Linked DNA regions of Homo sapiens. The protein of the gene in region 1 interacts with the protein of each later gene in a pairwise test. Each region holds a gene or a part of one and is shown on either strand. Other genes may lie near its edges.

The links.
Region 2: the proteins of TRAFD1 (region 1) and NGLY1 interact in binary tests that used the Homo sapiens proteins (3 or more experiments, as listed by UniProt).

Annotation. Positions count from the first base shown.
Region 1 is NC_000012.12:112,120,848-112,129,089, forward strand, and holds the start of TRAFD1 (TRAF-type zinc finger domain-containing protein 1), read left to right. Parts: upstream 1-4,712; 5' UTR 4,713-4,771; exon of another isoform or gene 4,772-5,302; intron 5,303-8,242. UniProt on the Homo sapiens protein: Negative feedback regulator that controls excessive innate immune responses. Regulates both Toll-like receptor 4 (TLR4) and DDX58/RIG1-like helicases (RLH) pathways.
Region 2 is NC_000003.12:25,772,703-25,780,443, forward strand, and holds part of NGLY1 (peptide-N(4)-(N-acetyl-beta-glucosaminyl)asparagine amidase), read right to left. Parts: intron 5,987-7,741; coding exon 5,872-5,986; intron 1-5,871. UniProt on the Homo sapiens protein: Specifically deglycosylates the denatured form of N-linked glycoproteins in the cytoplasm and assists their proteasome-mediated degradation. Cleaves the beta-aspartyl-glucosamine (GlcNAc) of the glycan and the amide side chain of Asn, converting Asn to Asp.

The DNA.
Region 1 (8,242 bases):
AAAACAAAACAAAATAATAGTAGTTTCCTACCAGAGGTGTCTGAGAAGATGGGCAGAGAGGGAGAAGATATTTGGGATCGGGTGCTTGTTGGGATGCCAGGGAGCAAGGGACTTACTGCCAGAGTCGCCTCTTGGTGCACCCAAAAAAGTACCAGGAAGATGAACAGGAAGGGGCCTCAAAAGACAGAGGGAGCTGGCGAAGGGCTGAGAGAAGTGCAAAGGATGGAATGCTACAGGGTAGAAAGGAACCCAGTTTCATGAAAACCCAGTTTGATGAAAACAGATTTGGTTTTGGCCAAAAACAAAAAAATAATCCACCTTTAAATGTTTACTGTAGGCTGGGCAAGATGGCTCACACCTGTAATCCCAGCACTTTGGGAGGCTGAGGTGGAACACCTGAGATCAGGAGTTCGAGACCAGCCTGACCAACATAGTGAAACCCCATCTGTACTAAAAATACAAAAATTAGCCGGGCATGGTGGTACATGCCTGTAATCCCAGCTACTTGGGAGGCTGAGGCGGGAAAATTGCTTGAACCCAGGAGGTGGAGGTTGCAGTGAGCCGAGATCATACCACTGCACTCCAGGTTGGGTGACAGAGCGAGATTCTGTTTCTTTTTTTCCTTCTTTTTTTTTTTGAGATGGAGTTTCACTCTTGTTGCCTAGGCTGGAGTACAATGGCTTGATCTCGGCTCACCGCAACCACCGCCTCCCGGGTTTAAGTGATTCTCCCTCCTCAGCATCCCAAGTAGCTGGGATTACAGGCATGCACCACCACACCCGGCTTATTTTGTATTTTTAGTAGAGCTGGGGTTTCTCCATGTTGGTCAGGCTGGTCTCGAACTCCCGACCTCAGGTGATCCACCAGCCTCAGCTTCCCAAAGTGCTGGGATTACAGGCATGAGCCACCACGCCCAGCCAAGATTCTGTTTCAAAAAAAAAAAAAAAAAAGAGTTTATTGTAAAGCAGCACCTTGAGGTAATTCTGCAAGTAGAAATTGAGTGCCTTCCATGTGTCCGGGCTAGGCATGGGGCCAGGAATCTGTGACTCTAAGCAGCTGCTTGCTGGGATGTAAAAGTGGGAGGAAGGGAACACGTTGGCAACTAGAACCACAAGGAAAAGCTGCATTCTGTCAGGGAAGATCCCTAGCCCTTGAGCGGGGCTGAGGCTGCGGGAGGTAGAAGACAGTTCAGAACAGGGATGGGGGCGTGTTGGGGAATGGAGGAGTCATGTTGGCTTCTCAGACTGGGTAGTGACAGCTTTGGCTAGAGGAGAGGAATTTCCCTCCCCCAGCCTGGCAGGGCTCTGAGTAGGGCTGAGCTGGGAAGGGTAGGGCAACACCTCTCCCTTTGGGCTTTATCAAAATTCCACTGCAGTGAATGCTAAATCTGCCAGAGCCCAGAAGTGCCATTTAGGCCATGACACCAGAAATCCAGATTCAGTTAATTTAGTGAGTTTTTAGGGATGAGGTTGAGGTACTAGGGAATTGGGATAGTGAGGAGGTTGACCTTGAGCAGACATTCAAATTTCTAACAAGCCGGCTGGGCGCAGCGGCTCACGCCTGTAATCCTAACACTTTGGGAGGCCAAGGTGGGAGGATCATTTGAGGTCAGGAGTTCAAGACCAGCCTTACCAACATGGCGAAACCCTGTCTCTACTAAAAATACAAAAAAATAGCCAGGCATGGTGGTGGGCACCTACAGTCCCAGCTACTCGGGAGCCTGAGGCAGGAGAATCGCTTGAACCCGGCAGGCGGAGGTTGCAGTGAGCCGAGATCGCGCCACTGCACTCCAGCCTGGGCGAGAGAGTGAGACTTTGTCTCAGAAAAATAAAAAATAAGTAAATAAATAAATAAAAATAAGTTTCTAACAAACCCTTTAAAGATTCTGGTACAAGGAGGTTGGGGGGAACTCCATCTAATCCTCTCATACAGGTGACTCCTGGTAAACCAAGAAGCAGCTCTTCCTCTAACCTAATCTAAATCCTTTCTGCTGCCACTGTAATCACCCCGCCTTGCCTGCCTTTTTTGGTCAGGAATAAAATATCCCTAAACTTTTTTTATTTCTGCTGTTGGATTTAGGCCAGTGAAAATAAGGCACCCCAGGGGTTAAGTGAAATTTGAGCTTATCATTATTTCAGTTCATTCCTTGCTACCCTGGACCTTGTTGTCTCCTCCCACTGTGAACTATGAATTTAGAGGAGCTTCTGGGTCACTCAGGCAACGGAAGACAGGACTGCCATTCTCCTGTTTATTTATTCAAAATGTGTTTATACCAAGTGGATGACTATACGGAGCAACTGAAACTCTCCTACACTACTGTTGGGAACGTTTAGTTGTGCAATCACTTCGGAAAACAGTTTGGTAGTTTCTTGTAAAGTTAAAACATAGACTTACCGTATGATCCAGCAATCCCACTTCCAAGTGTTTATCTGAGAGAAATAAAAACATATATCCCCAAAGACTTGCACAAGAATGGTTACTACTGCTTAAACTAGAATCAATTTTTTTTTTTGAGATGGAGTCTTGCTCTGTCACCCAGGCTGGAGTGCAGTGGTGCCATATCAGCTCGCTGAAACCTCTGCCTCCCAGGCTCAAGCAATCTTCTCACCTTAGCCTCCCAAGTAGCTGGGACTACACGCATGAGCCACCACGCCTGGCTACATTTTTGTATTTTTTGTAGAGACAGGGTTTTGTTATGTTGCCCAGGCTGGTCTGGAACTCCTGAGCTCAGGCGATCCACCCACCTTGACCTGCCGAAGTGCTGGGATTGTGGGCGTGAGCCACCATGCCTGGCCAAAAACTAGAACCAGCTCTAATGTTTGTCAGTATAAATTGTGGCATATCCATGTGCTATGCTACTTGGCACTGAAAAGGAATAGACTTGATATTATCAACAGCATGGATAAACCTCAAAAACATTATGCTGAGTTAAAACACCTTATTCATAAAAGAACACACTATATGGTTATCTTTTTTCTTTATATATACTTAATACATTAATATACTTAATTCATATTAATACACATTTTTTCTGATTGCTTTTTAACTGTTAATGATTGTGCTTTCTTTTGAACTCCAGTAAGTTTTGTTATTAAAATGTAACATACAATGTAAAGTGCTTAAGATATAGGTGTGTAGCTTAATAACTATTTACTAATTAATCCATCTGTGTTAATCACTTTGCTGATCAAGATATAAACATTTCTAGAAAATCTTTCTCATATCTCCTTACAGGCTATATACCCTCTGAATGGAACCAGTTACTTACTTCTCTCACTTTAGGTTAATTTTCCCTGGTTTTAAACTTTATATGTTTGGAATCACACAAGTTATATTGCATATTTAAGCTAAATATTTTATCTTGTTATAAATATTGCTTTGAGACGGAGTTTTGATTTTGTTGCCCAGGCTGGAGTGCAGTGGCTCAATCTCGGCTCACTGCAACCTTCACCTCCTGGGTTCAAGCGATTCTCCTGTCTCAGCCTCCCAAGTAGCTGGGATCATAGGCGCCTGCCACCACGGCCAGCTAATTTTTGTATTTTTAGTAGAAACGGTGTTTCACCATGTTGGCCAGGCTGGTCTTGAACTCCTGACCTCAGGTGATCCACCAGCCTCTGCCTCCCAAAGTGTTGGCATTACAGGCGTGAGCCACCGCGCCCAGCCTGTTAGATGCTTTTCTTGCTTAGTACTATCTCATTAACATTTTGCAATTATATTATATTATATTATATTATATTATATTATATTATATTATATTATTTTTGAGACGGGGTCTTTCTCTGTCCCCCAGGCTGGAGTGCGGTAGCATGATCAGGGCTCACTCCAGCCCTGCCTCCTGGGCTCGAGGGATCCTTCCACCTCAGCCTCCCAAGGAGGTGGAACTACAGGTGCGTGCCACCACGCCTGGCTAATTTTTGTATTTTTTTTGTAGAGATATGGTTTCATTATATTGCCCAGGCTGGTCTCTAATTCCTGAGCTCAAGAGATCCACCCGCCTTGGCCTCCATATTTTGCAATTATAATCTGCAATGGAATCATAATTTTAAATTGCTGTATTGTTTGTAATATGTGCTTGGTTATACTTATATAATTATAAGTTGGTTTGTAATATGTGCTTGGTTATACTTATATAATTATTCTCTCCTTTATTATACATGAGGTAAGAGAAGCTCAGGGAATCCATTCAGGCAGCAAGTGGAGAAACTAGCTCTCAAACCTGCATCTCAGGCTCTCATTCTTCCACTGCAAAAAAGCAAAGTGCTCAAAAAATATGGTCACAGATCTGCAGAAGTCTTGCACAAGGGCATTATCATAGCAATAAGAATGACTAATAAGTATTAACGGCCCATGAGAAAAGAACAAATACCATTAATTATCTCAATATATTAAGCATATTAGTAATGTTTGTACAGAATTATTCATGCAAATATTATTAGCCTGTGTCGGGGACAGTTGCTAAACTCAGCAACAGGCTCACAGCTCAGCTTCGTGCCTCTGGTTCCAGATGTGCAGGGGCCAGGGCTTCCAGGGACACGCCCCCGTGGGCCTCCAGGGAGCCAATCGACGCGCAGAAGGCGGGGCCCTGGGAGCGACAACGGTGTTATCCAATGGGCCGACAGCTGGAGCCGCCCCTGGCCAATGGGCGCGCTCCTCCGCGATGGGCGGAAGTGGTGAGGCAGCTCTGAGGGCCGTTGTTCAGTGCGGGGTCTGACAGAGGAGGCTCCGTGTCTGCAGCTAGTGTGTCAACTCAGCGTTTCTCCTCTCGTCCCTGGTGAGGTGTAGCGGCGGCACGCGGCTGGAGATCCCCTGTGGCCTCCAGTTTAGGAAGGGTCCAGCATCCCAAGGGAGGGGTGTGTGGGCGAGGGGTCTCTGGGCCCGGGGTCGCGGCTGTGAGGAGAGGATGCCCGCGCGGCGGCATCTCAGGCACCTGGAGGAGGCCGCGCTTTCTCCTCAGGGAACCGGCGCCTTGGCAGCCCCCGGCGACGCCGCCCCCTTCGCGGCCTAGGTTGGTCTGGTGAGCCGGGAAGCGGGCGTCGTTCGCAGCGCCGCTGTGACCACCGCGTCCCGGGCGGAGCTGGGCTCAGTGCCGGCCTGGGCCTAGAGTCCGAGCCTCGAGCTGCCGGCGTGGGGGGTCGCGAGTGGCCTAATGCGGCCTCGAAGCCGAAGGACCCGAGTCCGAGCTCGCACTCCGACCCGCTGGTGCTGTGGAAAACTCAGGTGGCCTTCCGCTTTCGTAGCCTCTAAAGTGGGGACCAAGACTTTCACCTCTTAGGATTGTAGTCGGGATTAAAAGATTTTCCCGGTAAGCGTTTGGCAACTGCTATTATTTGAGAAGCCGCTTACTTCTTCACTCCCCATCACCGACCTTCCTGGGGACGGGGGCGATTGGAAACTGCCTTGGGGTATCTGGACCCGGCAGGGGAAGCTCCGCCGCCTCGGGCAGAGGGACGGTCCCCTCTGCGGACTAGAGAGATCTAGCTGACCCCCAACAGGCTCCTTATAAGCTTGAAGACTTTTCTGTGCCTCAACTCTTCCGTGCATTCGCCCGTTTCCTTGACCCTTTGAAGTATTGTCAGTCCTCTGCCTGAAGAATCTGAGGCCCAGAGAGGTTAAATCTGGCAGAACCAGCCAGACCTTGACCCCCAGAGGGGGACCCTGCAGGCTACCCCCAGTCTCCTTGCATCTAGAAAAGCAAGCACCTGCTACATCTGAGCTCTGGCCTTAGAGTTGGCCAGAGTGGGCTGGAATAGAGCACACCTGAAATCAGTCGGACAGCCTTCCTTAGTTGCCATTTCATATCAGAGTGAATATCTTTTTTTTTTTTTGAGATGGAGTCACCTTCTGTTGTTCAGGTTGGAGTGCAGTGGCGAGATCTCAGCTCACTGCAGCCTCCGCCTCCTGGGTTTAAGTGATTCTCTTGCCTCAGCCTCCTGAGTAGCTGGGATACAAGCGCCCGTCACCACGCCCAACTAATTTTTGTATTTTTAGTAGAGACTTGGTTTTGCCATGTTGGCCAGGCTGGTCTCGAACCCCAGACCTCCAGTGATCTGCCCACCTCGCCCTCCCAAAGTGCTGGGATTACAGGCGTGAGCTGCTGCGCCCAGCCCAGAATGGGTGTCTTGAATTATGTCATTCCCTAGTTTAAAGCCCTTCAGTGGTTTACCATTGAGCTTGGAATCGAATCCAATATTCTTTCTGTCTGATATGACAAGACCTTCTTGAGTCATTCCCCTTTTTTATTATGCTCTTCCAGATCTGCCTTTACTTTCTCTTTCATTGCTTTTAGGCCTTTTGCCCTTCCCACTGCCTGGATGGATTTCCCCGCATTCCCATCCTCTATCTTTGTCTTTTCGTGGTTGGCTCTTGTACTTCAGTTCTTAATTTAAATGTCGTCTCCCCAGAAAGTTCTTCCCTGACCACTCTTATCTACCTAAAGTAGATTTGCCTCTATTCCGCCCCCATTTATTTGTCAGTATACTTTTCCATCACAATACTCAAGTTATATGTATTTTTTTGCTTATTGTTTTTCTCTACCACTAAATCGCTTTATCAGAGACTATATTTCCTTATTTTGTAAAGTATTTTTAGTGCCAGGGCACAGTGGCACACAGTATGGTCTTCTTTTTCTTTGAGACAGGGTCTCACTCTGTCACCCCGGCTGGAGTGCAGTGGTGTGATCACAACTCACTCACTGTAGCCTCGACCTCCTGGGCTCAAGCCTCCCAAGTAGCTGGGACTACCTCAGCCTCCCACCCCAGCCTCCCAAGTAGCTGAGATTACAGGCATGTGCCACCATACCCACCTAATTTTTTGCTTTTTTGTTTTTTGTTTTTTTTGAGAGGGAGTCTCGCTCTGTCGCCCAGGCTGGAGTGCAGTGGCGTGATCTCGGCTCACTGCAAGCTCTTTTTAGTAGAGACTGGGTTTCACCATGTTAGGCAGGATGGTCTCGATCTCCTGACCTTGTGATCCACCTGTCTCGGCCTCCCAAAGTGCTGGGATTACAGGCATGAACCACCGCACCCGGCTGCTTATTTTTTATAAAGGCAGGGTCTTACTATGTTTCCTGGCTGGCCTTGAACTCCTGAGCTCAAGTGATCCACCCACCCCAGCCTTCCAGAGTGCTGGGATTACAGGTGTGAGACACTGCACCTGGCCCACAGTATTGTCCTTTTTTTTTTTATTTTTATTTTTTGAGACAGAGGCTCACTCTGTTGCCCAGGCTGGGGTGCAGTGGTGTGATCCTGGCTTACTGCAACCTCCACCTCCCGGGTTCAAGCAATTCTGCTTCAGCCTCCCTAGTAGCTGGGACTACAGGCACCCGGCTAATTTTTTTATTTTTAGTAGAGAGGTGTTTCGCCATGCTGGCCAGGCTGGTCTTGAACTCCTGACCTCAAGTGATCCGCCCACCTCAGCCTCCCAAAGTGCTGGGATTACAGGCATGAGCCACTGGACCCAGCCTCAAAGTATTGTCTTAATTAAGCATGTTGAACAAATGACTAAATACATGTTTTGAAAAGTGGCAACTCGCTTGATAATGCCAAAACCTTTAAAGAACCCTACTGGGGGCAGGATTTAAGACCATTTTTGTATCATGGAAAGGAATAATCTAAACTAAACAATGGTAGTAAAGTTGCCAGTGCTTTGCTTTCTGCATTGACATCTTGTTTAAAAAGCAGGAGAAACTTTATAGTGAAGAAATTTGGCAGACACCATATCAACTATGTGATCATGGTTTACATCAATAGTAAAATAAGACTGTTGACATCATGTACCTTCTGATATAAGGCACTGAGATGAGCACAACATGATTTCTATGGTGTTCTTGCCAAAAATATATAACCTGAATTTAATCATGAGAAAATATCAGACAAACCCAAATTGAAGGATATTATATAAAATAACTAGCTGGCTGGGCACGGTGACTCATGCCTGTAATCCCAGCACTTTGGGAGGCTGAGGCTGGCTGGTGGATCATATGAGGTCAGGAGTTTGAGACCAGCCTGGTCAACATGGTGAAACTCCATCTCTACTGAAAATACAAAAATTAGCTGGGCATGGTGGTGCACACCTGTGGTCCCAGCTACTCAGGAGGCTGAGGTCGAGGTTGCAGTGAGCCGAGATCGCAGTGAGCCGAGATCGCACCACTGCACTCCAGCCTAGACAGCAGAGTGAGACTCTGTTTAAAAAAAAAAAAAAAAAAAAAGCCAGTATGCTTAACAAGGTCATGAAAGAGAAGGAAAGA
Region 2 (7,741 bases), on another chromosome or scaffold:
CATTATTTATTGTTTTATAGGTTCTGTGAGATTTATGCTTTAAGGAGGTTATAATTTGGTGTATTTCGAGGTTTTATTTCAATATTTAGAGCTCCTTTTTAGCAGTTCTTGTAGTGCTAGCTTGGTAGTGGCAAATTCTCTTGGCATTTGTTTGTCTGAAAGACTATCTTTCCTTCATTTATGAAGCTTAGTTTTGCTGGATGCAAAATTCTTAGCTGATAATTATTTTGTTTAAAGAGGCTAAAGATAGGACCCCAATCCCTTCTAGCTTGTAGGGCTTCTACTGAGAAATCTGCTGTTAATCTGATAGGTGTTCCTTTTTAGGTTATCTGATGCTTTTGCCTAAGAGCTTGTAAGATTATTTCCTTTGTCTTGACTTTAGATAACCTGAGGACTATGTGCCTAGGTGATGATCTTTTTGAGATGAATTTCCCAGGTGTTCTTTGAGCTTCTTATATTTGGATATGTAGATCTCTAGGAAGGCCAGAGAAGTTTTCCTCAATTATTCCCTCAAATATGTCTTCCAAACTTTTAGATGTATTTTCTTCCTCTGGAACACTAATTATTCTTGGGTTTGGTCATTTAACATAATCCCAAACTTCCTTGGGGCTTTGATCATTTTTAAAATTCTTTTTTGTCTTTGTTGGATTGGGTTAATACGAAAGCCTCATCTTTGAGCTCTGAAGTTCTCTTCTACTTGTTCAATTCCATTGTTGAAACTTTCCGATGCATTCTGCATTTCCCTAGGTGTGTTCTTCACTTCCAGAAGTTGTAATTGTTTTTTATTTATACTATTTATTTCTCTGGAGATTTTTTTTCATCCATATCCTGTATCACTCTTTAAATTTCTTTAAGTTCTCTGGTGTCTCCTTAAGTAACCTAATAATTGACCTTCTGAATTCTTTTTCTGGCAATTCAGAGATTTCTTCTTGGTTTGGATCCATTGCTACTATGCTAGTGTGATCTTTTGGGGATGTTAAAGAACCCTGTTTTGTCATATTACCAGAATTGTTTTTCTGGTTCCTCCTCATTTAGGTATAGACTATGTCAGAGGAAGGATCAGGGGCTCAAGGGCTGCTGTTCAGATTCTTTGGCCCCATGGGGTGCTCCCTTGATGTGGTGCTCTTCCCTTCCTCTAGGAATGGGGCTTCCTGAGAGCTGGACTGCAGTGATTGTTATTGCTCTTCTGGGTCTAGCAAACCAGTAGAGCTACTGGGCTCTGAACTGGTATTAGAGAGTGTCTGCAAAGAGTCCTGTGATGTGATCTGTCTTCAAGTCTCAGCCATAGATACCAGTACCTACTCTGATGGAGGTGGCAGGGGAGTGAAGTGGACTCTGTGTGGGACCTTGGTTGCAGTTTTGTTTAGTGTGTTGGTTTTCTCGAATTCCAGGTGTGCTGGTAGTAAAGCTGTCATGCGATTGGACTCAAGACCTCTGGTTAGCCAGGATGTTACAGGTGGTGGAATTAGCTGTTGTATTCTCTTTTCTTGGGGCAGAGTTGTTCTTTAATGAGTTGCTGTAATGGTTTCAGTTGGTTGGCCCCCAGCCAGAAGGTGATGCTTTCAAGACAGCATCAGCTGCAGTAGTATCAAGAAGATGTAAGCTTGCCCTAGGGTTGCCTGCATAAGTATTTGGGTTTCTCAGGCAGTGGGCAGGGCCATAGAGTTCCCAAGAGATTATGTCTTTTCTCTCAGAAAGACCATCAGGTGAAGGCAGGGTTAGGCATGTCTGAGAGCAGACTCTCTTTGGGTTGGGCTTGTTGTGGCCACTGTGGCGGATGGGGGTGTGGTTCTCAGGCCAATGGAGTTATGTTTCCAGGGGGATTACAGCTATCTCTGCTGCATCATACAGGTCACCAGGGAAGTGGGGGAAAGCCAGCAATAACAGGCCATACCCAGCTCCCACACAGCCAGAAGGGCCAGTCTCACTCCCACCATGCTCCACCAATAGCACCATGTTTATATCCAGGCAGTGTACGCAGGGTTGAGATTTTGCCCCAGGCTACAAGTCTCCCCACTGAGAAAGCAATCAGGGTTTTCAGGCTTCACCCCTCTCCGTCTGCCTTGGCTTCTGTGCTTGTATCTGCAGTATCTGCATTTCCCATTTGCCACCTCCCCTACACACCCCAGTCCAGGAAAATTCGTGTTCAGCTGCAAGTTTCATTCTCCCTGTGGTCTTTCCCCAATTCCACTGGCAGCCCTCCCCAAGGACCCCTGTGAGATAAAGTCAGAAATGGCTTCCTTGGTGGCCAGGAGTGCCTGCAGGCTCTTCTCGCTGCTTGTTCTACTTTTATATTTCACTCAGCTCTCTAAATTAATTTCAGCTCTAGGTAAGGTTAAACCCTTCTCCCGTGATCTGGATTTTCAGGTTCCCCAGTGGACTTTCCCCGTCACACTTCGGGCACTCACAGGTTTTCCTCTGTCTCATGGAATTTGCAGCAGCAAGCTGCTTTTTTCAAAGGGTCTGTGAATTCTTTTGGTTTTCCTGGTATGTTCCTCTAGTATTTCTCAGAGCAAAAGTTCACGATGTGAGTTTCCAGGCACTGTTCTGTCAGTCCAATTGGGAGCTGCAAGTTAGTCCTGTCTCCTATCCACCATTTTCCAAAATCAGCATATTGAAGAGGTATCTGCATTCCTATGTTTACTGCAGCACTATTCACAATGGCCAAGATATGGAATTAACCTAATTGTCCATCAATAGATGAATGGATAAAGAATATGTGGTATCTATACACAACGGAATATTATTCCACCATAAAAAAGAACAAAATCCTGTCATTTGCATCATCATGGATGGAAATGGAGGGACATTATGTTAAGTAAAATAAGCCAGAATTCAGAAAGACAAATAACACATGTTCTCACTCATATGTGGGAGCTAAAACAATTGATCCCATAGAAGAAAAGAGTGATTGTAAAAAGATATTACAAAATTAAATAAAAATTTAAAAAAATAAAGAAGAGTGGAATGGCAGTTACCAAAGGCTTGGAGGGATAGAAGGGACTGGGCAATAGAAAGAGATTGGTTAATGGGCACAAAATTACAGTTAAATAGGAGGAATAATTTCTCATGTTCTATAGCACAATACGGTGACTACGGTTAAAAACAATTCATTGTATATTTCAAAATAGCTAGAAGACAGAATTTTGAATGTTTCTAACACAAAGAGATGATAAATGTTTGAGATCATGGATGTTCCAATTACTCAGATATGTTCATTACACATTTGTATGCTAGCATCAAAATATCACCTGTACCCCATAATGTACAACTATTATGTATTCATATAATTATTCTTTAAAAAGTCCACCAACTTTCTTTTTGGTGGTAGAGTTCAAGTCCTGAGGTGTGATGTCTAAAGCCGAACAGAAACTTTAAGTATAAATTAGTCATATCAAAACCTGTTAATCTTTTCTGAGACTGTGACTCCATTTGCATCAAATACTTCTGCAAGTCTCAGTGTGGCCTGTTATTTGGCACTGCAGTGACCAACACTGGTTTGCCTGAGACCGAGGGGTTTTCTGGGATGTGGGACTTTCATTGCTAAAACCAGGACAGTACTGAGCAAACTGGAATGGCTGGCTACCCTACTTGGCACTCAAATATTTGCTGAATGAAAGACAAATCTAATTCTATCGAATATGTGACACTTCGACATGAGAAATGGGTAGAGTCTTCCGTTGTCATTTACTCAATTTTCCCAACCAATTTGAATCTTGAAAATTGGCATTTCCTTGAACAAGGAATTTTAAATTCTTTATGTTCGGATACCTTTGTATCATCTATAATCAGATGACACCATAATTTATATCCCCTGCCTAATCTCTCCTTTGGGGTTGTAAACTCATATAGCCAACTGCTTACTTGGCTTCTCTACTTGAATATTTAACAGCAAATTGGTCACAATTGTCCAAAGACAGGTGTTAGTTTCTCCCCTAAAACCTGCTACTCTCCAAGGCTTCTCTATCTCAATTAATGATACTCCCATCCAATTAGTTGCTTAAACCAAAACATAGGTAAGTCCCCGATTCCTTCCTTTCCCTTATATCTTACATCTAAATCACCAGTAAGTCCTGTTGATTCTGTCACAAAAAGAAATCCTGGATCCATCTACTTCTCTCCATCTCCACCATCAGTACTTAATTCAACAAATCTTTATTGAGTACCTAACATCTGTAATGCACCAGCATTATTCCAGGAGCTAGCAACACAGGGAACAGAAATGACAAAAAACCCTGCCTTCATGGACTTTATACAAACCACTACCATTTCTTATTTAGACTAATGTAATAAGCTTTCTAACCGGTCTCCCTGCTTCATCCCTTGTCCCCATCCCACCACCTCCAGGAATTCTCTTTACAGCAAGCTAGAATAATCTTCAAAAATATTTTTCCCTACTTAAAACTTTCCAGGCTGGGCACGGCGGCTCACGCCTGTAATCCCAATACTTTGGGAGGCCAAGGCGGGCGGATCGCCTGAGGTCAAGAGTTCGAGACCAACCTGACCAACATGGAGAAATCCCATCTCTACTAAAAATACAAAATTAGCCAGGCGTGCTGTCGTATGCCTTTAATCCCAGCTACTCAGGAGGCTGAGGCAGGAGAATCGCTTGAATCCAGGAGGCGAAGGTTGTGGTAAGCTGAGATTGCATCACCGCACTCCAGCCTGGGCAACAAGAGCGAAACTCCATCTCAAAAAAAAAAAAAAAAAAAAAAATTCCCAGTGGCTTCTCATCTCACTTAAAATAAAGTCTAAGTCTTTTGCCACATTCCTCAAGACCCCATGTGTCCTGGTCTCTGCCTCCCTATGCAGCTTATTTCTGTTTCACGGTTACTTCTGCTGGAAATCCTTTACACACATTAATCCTTCTGCCTGAAACACTCTTACCTGAGAGTTTCAGGTACCTGAGATGTTTCAAGTCACAGCTCAAATGTCATCTCCTCAGAGAGGACTTCCCTGACCACTGCCTGCCATGCAAAGTACTTTTTATTCTATTACCTGGTCTTATTTTCTTCTTTGCACTCATCTTGTTTTCACATCTACTGGCTGTTTAACCTACTAGAATGTAAGCTCTATGTGAGGTGGGATTATATCTACTACTTTGTTCACTACTGTTACTTCAGGGCCTGAAATGGAACCTGGGGAGGGAAGCAGAGAGGCATGAAGAAAAGTGAATCTTACATAGCAGCTCAGCATATCTCTTTAACAACTTCTACAATTGCCTATTCTGACGACCACTGACTATTGAGTCTCTGTAACTTGTTCAAGTTCTTTCAATGCTCTACAAAGGAGAACTAGTTAAGGATATAAACATAAAGAAAATTCAGAATCTTAATAACTACTTTCGATGTGTCATAAAATTAAACTACACCACAAGATTCCAAAAGATAACACCAAAATATTCATTTGAAGTAAAAACAAAAAAAAATACTGAGACTCCTCTCCTGTCACAGAAGAAACCCCTTCTGTGTGGCAGCTCAACTCAGTTTTTCTGTTTACTTCAGACTCTTTTCATTTCCTACTACAGACAGGTAGCTAGACTCTATTAGTATTCATGTGTGCTCACAAATCAGGTTTTAGCTAAAAGCCTAAAGTGAACCACATTTGGTCCTTGGGTTGCATGTATGACCCTTATTTTAAAGAACTGAGACTCGTAAGAATTTCTCTGTGGAGCGTTGTTACATTTTACTGAAATTTTAAACTATACTTGTTGTGATTTTTAAATGTCCAATCAATGAAGAAATAACTACTTCTACTGATTCCCAAAATGATAAATTAAAAAACATTATCTTATTCAAACAATTATTCACCAACATGATAATGGCTGCTTTGTGCATGAAGAGGGGAGAGGAAATCCTTGAACATACTTACCTCTTCAAAGCCCATTTCAAATAAACATTCAACAGCTCCTCTGACAGGCAAGAGTCTAGTAGAAAAGGCTGTGTTTCCAATCCGGATGGATCTATATTTTTCATCATTAGGGTTTCTGACAAAAAACAAAAGTTTGATTATATATAAAAAAAACCAGGTCATAGTTCTTCAAAGACTTTACTTTCAACAAACATGACCTAGGTATACCTTTATAGTCACCTGATTTTCTTTCTTCCCTAAACCAATGGTTGTTTTTACTATAAGTAAAAACAGTAAATTACATTCTGTGCTGTTAAGGTACATTTTTTTTTTTTGAGATGGGGGGGGTCTCGCTTCAGTTTAAGATACATTCTTTTTTTTTTTTTTTTTTTTTTTTTTTGAGAGAGGGGTCTTGCTCTGTTTCCCAAGCTGGAGTGCAGTGGCGTGACCTCGGCTCACTACAGCCTCCACCTCCCAGGTTCAAGCAATTCTCCCACCTCAGCCTCCCAAGTAGCTAGGATTACAGGGGTGCACCACCACTCCTGGCTAATTTTGCATTTTTTAAGTAGAGACAGGGTTTCACCATGTCGACCAGGCTGGTCTCGAACTCTCGACCTCAGGTGATCCACCCGCCTCAGCCTCCCAAAGTGCTGGGGATTACAGGCGTGAGCCACCGCACCTGGCCCAAGACATATTCTTGACACAGACAGTATGGCAATAAAAGGAAGACATAAATTTCTTTTACCATAATTAAGATTTTGAATAGTACACTTGGGACAAGTAACCAGCACATGAAAAGTTTTGGTTTGAGATTTTTAATTACTTTGATAAATCAGAATTGTTTAAAAAAAATTAAAAGAATGTAAGGTTAAGCTAATCATAGTATTATATTCAAAAGACCCTCAGAACATAGTTTAGGATGATAAGTTTCATACCTGACACCAACTGCCTTAAAGTGATAGTGACTTCTTTAAGTACTATGTTAAGGAGGATTCTGAGGCAGTATCTGGGATCCATAGGAAGATGTACTTCCATAAGAAGCCACCTGCCCTGGGGTATGATATGGTGAGTAGGCAAATGCTAGCAAATGACTTATCAACTTTGTCCTATCTACACATGTTCTCTAGGTATTCTGACGTAAAAACAAAACCAAAAACCAAATATTTTAATTTTATAAGTTTTAACAAATTTTGCATTTGTTTTTCACCAGTCAATTGCCTATTGGCCAAAGTGTCATAAATACTAAATGAATGTTTTTAAACTTTTCCCTAATTTCAAAAATCATGTTTATTACAGAATATTCAGAGACAAATGCTCTATTTTTTTTGCTATTCAAAATGTCCACAGATTGGTGCTAATCTACAAATTATTTGTTACCCATACACAAGTAGTACAGAAATTTTTTCTTTGTTTGTTTACAAGTGCATAAAAATGAAGCAAGAAGTAGAGAAATTGAATGTTCGGTATACAGCAATTTGATATTGCCATGAAATTTTCAGTGTATTTTACAAAAGTTATAGGTCCATAAGGGATTGGAAATTAAAACAAAAACATTGTTCTTTACTATATGTAATTTGAGAATCACAGATGGTTGTGAAATACAAAGAAAATTTTATTCTCAACTCTTTATTCTGTGTATTAGATTAGGGTTTCTCAGTCTCAGCACCATTAACATGTGGGGCCTTTTCTCAGTGGAGTTTCCTTGTGCACTGCAGAACATTCGCATTCCTGGCTTCCATGCTACACTGTCTCACAAGTGAGCCTCTCTTTCTTATCACTTAAGAAAACTGAACTATAAAATAATCCTACATTTATCAAAGCTAGTTTTCGATAAATGGGGCATCTTTTCCTGACACTCAATGTATTTCACAGGGTGATAAACATGTCAGTA